Regions from separate parts of the Homo sapiens genome. Here regions 2 and 3 are each linked to region 1. Evidence: fine-mapped expression QTL. A gene starts in region 1. Each other region holds a variant in brackets. All regions are shown on one strand. Distances are from middle to middle.

What was found. PIP is the estimated chance that this variant, and not a neighbour inherited with it, causes the effect.
Region 2: its variant is fine-mapped to the expression of ZHX2 in whole blood (TOPMed, PIP above 0.99). The same link has a PIP of 0.9 or more in CD4 T cells and neutrophils.
Region 3: its variant is fine-mapped to the expression of ZHX2 in caudate (GTEx, PIP above 0.99).

Annotation. Positions count from the first base shown.
Region 1 is chr8:122,780,162-122,782,917 of GRCh38, forward strand. It overlaps ZHX2 (zinc fingers and homeoboxes 2), which reads left to right and starts at 1,494. Exons shown (of 4, transcript NM_014943.5): 1 at 1,494-1,785. ZHX2-AS1 (ZHX2 antisense RNA 2) reads right to left here and starts at 1,443. Exons shown (of 2, transcript XR_007061082.1): 1 at 12-1,443. RefSeq lists enhancers at 1-438, 439-938, 2,106-2,155 and silencers at 2,206-2,275, 2,496-2,625.
Region 2 is chr8:122,973,112-122,975,867 of GRCh38, forward strand. It overlaps ZHX2 (zinc fingers and homeoboxes 2), which reads left to right. Exons shown (of 4, transcript NM_014943.5): 4 at 131-1,399. Among named protein-coding and RNA genes, the nearest start is that of DERL1, 68 kb to the right of the region's middle. The variant A/G (reference allele first, on the strand shown) is at 1,298.
Region 3 is chr8:122,836,574-122,839,329 of GRCh38, forward strand. The region is part of intron 1 of ZHX2 (zinc fingers and homeoboxes 2); the gene reads left to right. Among named protein-coding and RNA genes, the nearest start is that of ZHX2, 56 kb to the left of the region's middle. RefSeq lists enhancers at 1-397, 1,045-1,876. The variant A/T (reference allele first, on the strand shown) is at 1,208.

The sequences.
Region 1 (2,756 bases):
GCCGTCCTCACCCCAGTCCGGGTCCTCGCCATTGGCCTCTCCGCTGCACACGGCCACCTGTTGATGCCCTCGCGCCCACAGCCGAGTTGCAAACGGCCGCTAGAGTTCGTTCTAATTCCCCAGAGCAGAGCTGCCCGGGAAGCCCCGACGCGACGCGCCTGCTAATCTGCAGGGCGGGCGGGGACTCCGCAGAGCCTCCCAGCCCCAGGCTCCCTTTGTTTTCTCGCTGCGCTCGAAGCTTCTAAACTAGCCCCCAGACCGCATCCCCTCGTCCCCGCCCGGGAGCTGCCCAAGAGTCCACAGGCCAGCCCAGGGGGAAACAAGGTACATCTGGGCAGGAATGCGCGGCGCAGACAGGTTGCCGCCTGAGATCCCGAAGTGTACCCAGATCCCGAATTCCTTAGAGCTCTTTAGCCGAGCACTGTGGCAGGAGCGCGGCGCCCGGAATACAAGTTCATGGTTCCGAGCCGGCGGGCGAAGGGCAGCGCGATCCCCCGCCACCTTTGCTCTAAGGCGCCTAGGGGAACCTGGGGGCTGCCGCGGTGAGAGCTCCGCTCCCACTGGGAACATTGGAGTCCCAGTTGCGAAAGCGACCCGCCTAGCTTCCGAGGGACTTCTCTGCGAGCACCGCAGGCGTGTGCATTTCTTCGAATCTGAGAATTCCAGCGAACTCGGGCTCTACCAGAGTTTAAGTCGGCCCCTGGGGCGTCTGTTTGTTTATTGGCTCTTAAGGGAAAAAAGTTTGAAGATCTTTAACCAGCCTCAGACCTGGCGCGGGCGGAAATCCCGGAATCTCCCCAAGCAAAAGTGATATAACTTCAAGTCGTTATATAAGTGGGGGGCTCCTTCTTCCCCTCCCTACGCCGAGCCTTCTCATTATCATTCCGGGAGTAAAATGTGTCTCGCTCAACATAGTTTTAAAATCGTTATTATTATTTTCCTGAGCCTGAAGCCGGGCCAAGGCGCAGGCAGCGCCCAGGGTGCGTGGTGGCCCCACCCGCGCACAGTCCCACGCAAAGGGTCCCGGGGCCCGGGTACCGCCAGAGCCGGGCCTGCAAGCGCGCCCTTCGGTCCCACGGTCCGCCACTCCACGTGGTCAAGATCAACAGTTTGTTGAGCTCATCAGTGACACCTTGAACTTTTCATAAAGAAAATGGGTATTGCACGGAGACGGTTTGGCCGCGGCCGCCGCGCGGGGTCGTGCTTAATATTCAATGATCTCGCTCGCGCCTCCCCCTCCTCTTCTCGCAGAAATTCCACCGAGTCCGTTACTGGGCTCAGACTTTTAAGTTAATTTACTGCCCCCCTACCTTGGCCAGTAACCAGCGCCTTTAGGGCTAGCCTCCCCCCCAGCTCCTGCCTGAAAAATGACATTTCGCCGGTGTCTCCGGAGGGGGCTGAATTTCACTTTGTAACTTTCTGCGGAACCCGAGCCCGGGTGGCAGCTCGGGTGGTGGTATCGTATGCAAATACGCATGCTGACGTTACAGATCATGTGGGTTTTGGCGTAGATTCCCCACTGATCGAGGCATTTTTTTTCCCTTTTTTTTTCCTTTTTTTTTTTCTTTTAAAAATTTTGGCCATCGTTCTCCGTACGGGGGCTTTTTCTGTCTGTCTGTCTGGCTGGCAGGCTGGCTTTCCCCCTCTTTCCCACGGAGCCCGAGCCGGGCGCCCGGTGGGGAGTGGGGAGTGGGTGGGGGGAGCCAGCAGAGTTCCATTTTGGAACGCCCGTGCCGCGTCTCCGCGTTCCCAGCCCGGGTCCCCGCGTTCACAGCCCCAGCGCAGGTAAGAAACTTCGCCTCGGCGCGGAGCCCCCCAGCCGGCGCCGCCGGCCCCAAACCCCGCACGCCGGGCGCCGGCCACTCCAGCCCAACTTTCCCACCGCCGCCGTCGCCGCCGCGGCTCCCGAAAATGTGTTGTTAATGGGACTTGGCCGGGTTTGTGATTGGAAGGGGGGTACGGAAGGGGGGGGGTGTGCAGGCTCTTTTTGCGGGTGGGAGGAAATGAGCGGATACAGAGAGGGAAGAAGATTTTTTTTTTAAGAGTTTTGATTACAAGTTTGGATAAATGGGAGCCAGAGCGAGGAGGAGGAGGAGGAGGAGGAAAAACATGTCTACGTTTCCCTATGTCGACATAAGCCACAAAAAAATATGGCGTCCGCTTTCGACAGGGCGTTACGTAGACCCGACTGTTTTTATTTATTTATTTCGTGGCCGTCTCCCTCCCTTCTTGGCCAAACTGCGGCGCTTTGTGCAAACGGGGCAGGTCCCGCGGGGACTCCACCGGGACGTGGCCCCGTCTCCGCGCGTTTTGGCAGGCGGGGGGCTGCGTGTGTCTGCTCCCCTCCCTCCCCCTCTCCCCTCGCTCCCCTCTCCCGGTGACGATTCGCCGTAATGTGGTGGCAGGAAGCATGACGCCGTGGGCCGAGGCTGCCTCTGCTCTCGTCGCTCCCGGCGGCTGCAGGCAGCGGGCGCGCAGCGCGGGCGGCAGCCGAGCTACCTGGCGGGGGCAGGGCCGGAGCGCGGCGCTGTCCTCACCCCCGCTCAGGTGCAGGGGGAGTCCGCGCGGGGCGGGGGGCCGAGGGCGGCCGCGGGACCCCCGGCCCTGCTGTCCGCTGCCAGCTGGCCGGAGCCTCTGCCAGCCCGAGCCCACGTTCGCCCCCCTGAACGGCAGCTGGCGCTTTTCGTCTGCCCCACAAGAGGTTAATCTTTGTTGGTGTTGCAGCTTCTTTGTGGCTTCCCCAGGACTTGTATCCT
Region 2 (2,756 bases), 190 kb after region 1:
CCCAGGATGACTTTGGAAGGCCCCCACCCCAACCCAGGAGAGCCAGGAAGAAGCAAACCATGATGCCTTCCCCCCAGGGAACAATGGTCATTTGCCTGACATCTTGACTCTGTGGTTTTGTGTCTTCTAGGGAAGTCTGTTAGAACTGCTGTGCTGATCAACGGGACGCTCCGTCTTTGAAGAAAGAAGAGATGGTCTCTCCCCAGCCATGGGCCACCCTTGCCAGTGACTCCAAGTGGAACTACTTAGCTCGCGTGTGCCTGGAGGGTGCGGGAAGTCCAGCGACTCTCAGACGCACCTCCCAGAGGACCGGTGGGAATTGTTCATAGTGCCAAAGTCCTACTACTGCGTTTTCAATGGGTCCTTGTACATAGTTTGCTCCTCTGCCCTAGCCCTCACCTCTTGCTATACTGGAACCGATTTGTACAATGTGGGAATTTTGTTACCTTTTTAATCAAGGGCAACTTCCTTTTCCAGCACTACCATTGTAAGGTTTTTTTCAGGAGGGAGGGCTAACCACCTTGCTTTTCTCTTTTCTCTTTTTCTTTTTTTTATTTTTGTTTTATTAATTTGGGGAAAGGGGTGTTAGCATTAGTGCCATGATATCTACTGGATTTTAAGTAGGGAGACTTTATTTTTAAAGGTAGGTTGAAATTTGGGAGATTTCTCGGCAGGAAGGGCTGAAATCCAGGCCCCTGTCTCAACTTGGAGAGAGGTGACAGACGGCAGATCTTCCAAATCAAATTCCTTTCCAGTTCTTCCCCTGGCTGCCTTTTTGGGGGTCCCTGCCTTAGCCCCACACAAGGCTTTCTGAACTGCCAAGAGGGGATCTGGCTTCTCAACTGCTCGGCCTCTTGGGCCAGGCTGTGCCCAGCCAGCCCTGGGAGAACTGGGTAGCAGGTGGCTGACTTCTTTAAGCACCTTTCTAAATACCAGCAGAAGAGGCTCCCGCCTCTGTTAGCATGATCAGTACTATTGTGACATTAAAACAACAACAATAAGATCTTCCTATCTGGAGGGTACAGAGGTGAATGGCTTTGGTTTTCATTTCTCTTCTTCACTGCCTTTTCTCGGTGTGGTATTTGACAAGATTTTAGCTCAAAGCCTCACCATGAATTGATTTTTTTTGTTTGTGTGTGTGTTTGTTTTGGGACAATTTTAGATACCTGAGTGCACTTTTTCAGTTAGTCCTAACTTTTAAAAGAAGGAAAACCAAGAGACATATCTGGTGTACGTGTTGCAGTATGAACTCTGGTTGCAATCCCTCCCCGTCCCACACTGCCCCCCATTTGAGTAC[A/G]CCGCACAAGTCAAACGCTAGGAAGTTTGAATAAAACCAATTTTTCTAACTTGTTGCTCATTTGTTGTAACTCAATAAAGCAAAGACTAAACATTTTTATAACCTTTTCCTCTACTTCGCCTTCTTTATTGTCGTCTGGCTCCCGAGGGCTTGGTGTAAGGGTTCTGACTTGGATACCTCCCGTTTCAAATTCATTTTCCATCCTGGAGGGATCTGACATCGCAAACTGGACTTTAAAAATGGGACGTAGGCCCAGCGCAGTGGCTCACGCTGTAATCCCAGCACTTTGGGAGGCCAAGGCGGGTGGATCACCTGAGGTCAGGAGTTCAAGACCAGCCTGGCCAACATAGTGAAACCCCATTTCTACTAAAAATACAAAGATTAGCTGAGTGTGGTGGTGTGCACCTGTAGTCCCAGCTACTCAGGAGGCTGGAGAATCGCTTGAACCTAGGAGGCGGAGGTTGCGGTGAGCCAAGATGGCGCCACTGCACTCCAGCCTGGGCAGCGAGAGTGAAACTTTGTCCCCTCCCTCCCCCCACCGAAAAAAAACTGGATGTAAGTGTTGTAGGAATCTTCAGCAGATCTCATCGACACAGAGAAGGAAGGTATAGGCCCTTCCTTCTCCCGGGTCTCACAAATAGATTCATAAAATAGTCAAGAGAAGAGCTTCAGAGTGGGAATGAGAAGCCCCTCTGTGCACAGGCTCGCCCTTGGATGACCTGAGCTAAGTCGCTCCCCCTCCCTGGGCTGCTGGCGAGTGGTAGCTGGGGCACTGCCATTTCTCTGAGAAGGTGGCTTTTAAGTATCTCTGCCCTGGTGAGGTTTAAAGAGTCCCTCACTCTTCACACCTGACACTCGTCTAGACCAGTGGTTCTCAAACATGAGTGGGCACCAGCATCACCTGGAAGGTTGGTTAGACTGTCTGATCGGCATGTCTGGGGTGGGAACCGAGAATGTGCATTGCTAACAAGTTCCTCACCTTGGGAACCTCTGGTCTAGATGGTTCATTTTTACGGGAACTTACAGACTTTTGGCCAGTTTATCTAAACTTAGCATGTGTTTATTCTACAGATAACGGGAAAGACCCACTTCCCAAAATACAGGAAACACTGAAAAATTCAAGATTCAAAAGGGCCTGGCCTTCTCTGGGGGATTCCCTCAGTCCCCCATCCTGTGGGCTCCCATGACACCCTCTCTGCACATAGCCCTCACCACACAGCTCTCGGATTCATTTGGTCAGCTTGTCGATTCCCCCAAGCTGAGAGCAGGGGCCATAGATTTTCCATAACTTTACACCTCTCCAAAATTCCGCTAATTCTCTTTACCACTCAGCAAAGTTGAATGTAGACAGCGATTCAAAAATAAAAATAGGCCAGGTACAGTGGCTCACACCTGTAATCCCAGCAATTTGGGAGGCCGAGGCGGGCGGATCACTTGAGGCCAGGAGTTCGAGACCAGG
Region 3 (2,756 bases), 56 kb after region 1:
CCTAAAATGGCATCAGCACCAAGTGAGGACAGGGCAAAGATTTTATAGTCTCCTGTAAACAGGAAGTGTCCTAGTCTGACGTAACTGCTACGTTGTACCTGGATGGCCTCTTTCTTGATCTTCACGGGTACGTGTCTTCCAGCCAGGGTAGGTGTCTTCCGGCCGGCTTTCTTCCTGCTTCTGCTATTTTGCTGGCCCACACTGCTGGCGCAAGGCTTGCGCCTTGGTACTGGGCCTGAGAAGGGAGGAGTTATTCATCCCCTTAAGCTTTCAGGCCCCAGGGAGAATCTTACACTACTGGGCTGCATTTCCAGACAATTAGGGCATTCTAAGGCACAGGATGAGGTAGGAGGTCCGCACAAGATACAGGTCATAAAGACCTTGCAGATAAAACAGCTTGCAGTAAATAAGCTGGCCCAAACCCACGAAAATCAAGATTTTGACCAGAGTGACCCTCTGGTCATCCTCACTGCTACACTCCCACCAGCATCATGACAGTTTACAAACACCATGGCAACGTCAGGAAGGTACCCTATATGGTCTAAAAAGGGGAGGCATGAAGAATCCACCCCTTGTTTAGCATATCATCAAGAAATAACCATAAAAATGGGCAACCCCTATGGAGTAGCCATTATTTTATTCCTTTACTTTCTTAATAAACTTGCTTTCACTTTATGGACTCGCCCTGAATTCTTTCTTGTGCAGGATCCAAGAACCCTCTCTTGGGATCTAGATCTGGACCCCTTTCCAGTAACTGTATTACTGACCATCAAAGGAAACCCCATCTGAGCAATGGGTTCCAGACCCCCATCTCTAATCGTGAGCCCCATCCTGGAAGTCACTTGTAATAAGGAAAGTTATTCCATAAGCTGGTCCTGCCACTACCCCTACAGGTTTCAAACACCCACCCTCCTTTCCAAAACCAGACCCAGGTTACTGTGGTCACCTACTGGTGACTTCATTTGCATCTGGTGGTCAGATCTAGTCAGGGTGTAATTCGGCTAAATTAATAGTGCTAATAGTGCAAATTCCTAGTGCGTTTTACAGGTGGGGAATAGAGGGTGAGAATTTGGGATTTAAAACTGGCATTTCAGAAATGCTGTCACATTAGAGCTTCATTTCAGTCCCTTGGGGTGGCCACCAAGTAAACAGCTCAATTTCCATCCCTGCTGGAGGTACAGAATGCAGCATTCACACTTGCCAACAG[A/T]TAATGTCTCCTGTCTTTGTCGGTGCTTAATGGCTTTTAGTAGAGTTAAGGCTGAGAAGAAAGAGACTGACTTCCTCTTATTGGGTAAAATGGAAACACTGGGGAGACAATTCCATTTCAGACAGACCCTTTCCTTCTCAGATTACTGATCCACAACCCAGCCAACTCCCTTTCAGCTCATTCAGGTAACATGGAAGACAGAGGCCACCCGCTTAGGGGAGAGGAGGGTGGAAGAGCCCGTTGAGCTTTGTGTTTGGGATTTGTCAGCAGAGAGGAGATTTGCATTTCTAATAAGAGCCCCGTCTGGGTGTGCTTTAGCCCAGTGGCTGCACATCTCTGTAGCTCTCCAAGTGCTCTCAGTTTGCAGAGCAAGGGAAGAATCTTCTACAAAAACAAATAGCTGTGGGAAGAGAGCAGAAAGCACAGCACAGTGGGGTGCCAGGGGCACTTCCTGGGTATCAAGGAACGTTTAAAAATGGTATTACATCAAGTCACCACAGACACCCTGGCGAATATTCCTCGTGTGCCCATCCCTCACATGCCCTTTGTCTATGTAAGAGAAACTCATTACATGTTCTACTCTGAGATTTGGAGATTTATTGTTATTTCTCCAAAAAGAAGTAACGAGGCATGTCAGTCCCAGCGTGTTTATACAGCAGAAAACTGGGAAAAGAAAACAAGGTTCAACAAGAGGTGAATAGTACGATAATTAAACAATTAAATAAATAAATGGTTAAATACGTGGTAGAAACCTTTCGATCATATATGAAGTCTACAGTATTTAGTAATGTGATTTTTTTTTTTTTTTTTTTTTGAGACAGAGTTCACTCTGTCACCCAGGCTGGAGTGCAGTGGCTCGATCTCGGCTCACTGCAACTTCCATCTCCCAGGTTCAAGCGATTCATTCCTGCCTCAGCCTCCCGAGTAGCTGGGACTACAAGCACGTGCCACTACACCCAGCTAATTTTTGTATTTTTAGTAGAGACGGGGTTTCACCTGTTGGCCAGGCTGGTCTGGAACTCCTGACCGCATGATCTGCCCGCCTTGCCCTCCCAGAGTGCTGGAATTACAAGCGTGAGCCACCATGCCTGGCCAATGTGATTTTTTTAAAGTGGTAAATGTTAAATGAAAAATGCAGGATTCATACTGTATATATAGTTTTTATTTAAGAAAAACACATAATGCATGATGAAATTACAGCAAAATGTTAACAAAGTTGAGATCTTTAGAGATCAAATCAGAAATTATTATTTTTCTTTCTTTCATTTCTACATGTATTCCAAAGGGTTTTTCGTGTATGATTATAGAAGTTATATGTTGGAGCAGGGAACCCCACTATACCCTCATTACTTTTTTTTTCCCTTCCTTCTTTTTTTATCTTGGGCACACACTAGAATGTGGCATTGCTCTCTGTGGGCCCATCCGCACTCCATTCAGCCAAGTATTCTATTGCTAACAGAGAACAGAGCAGGTTGCACAAGCAATGGACAAAATCTGAACATTTCCAACTTCCCTCACCCCATCATTCACTCACCCATGAGTTCATCTA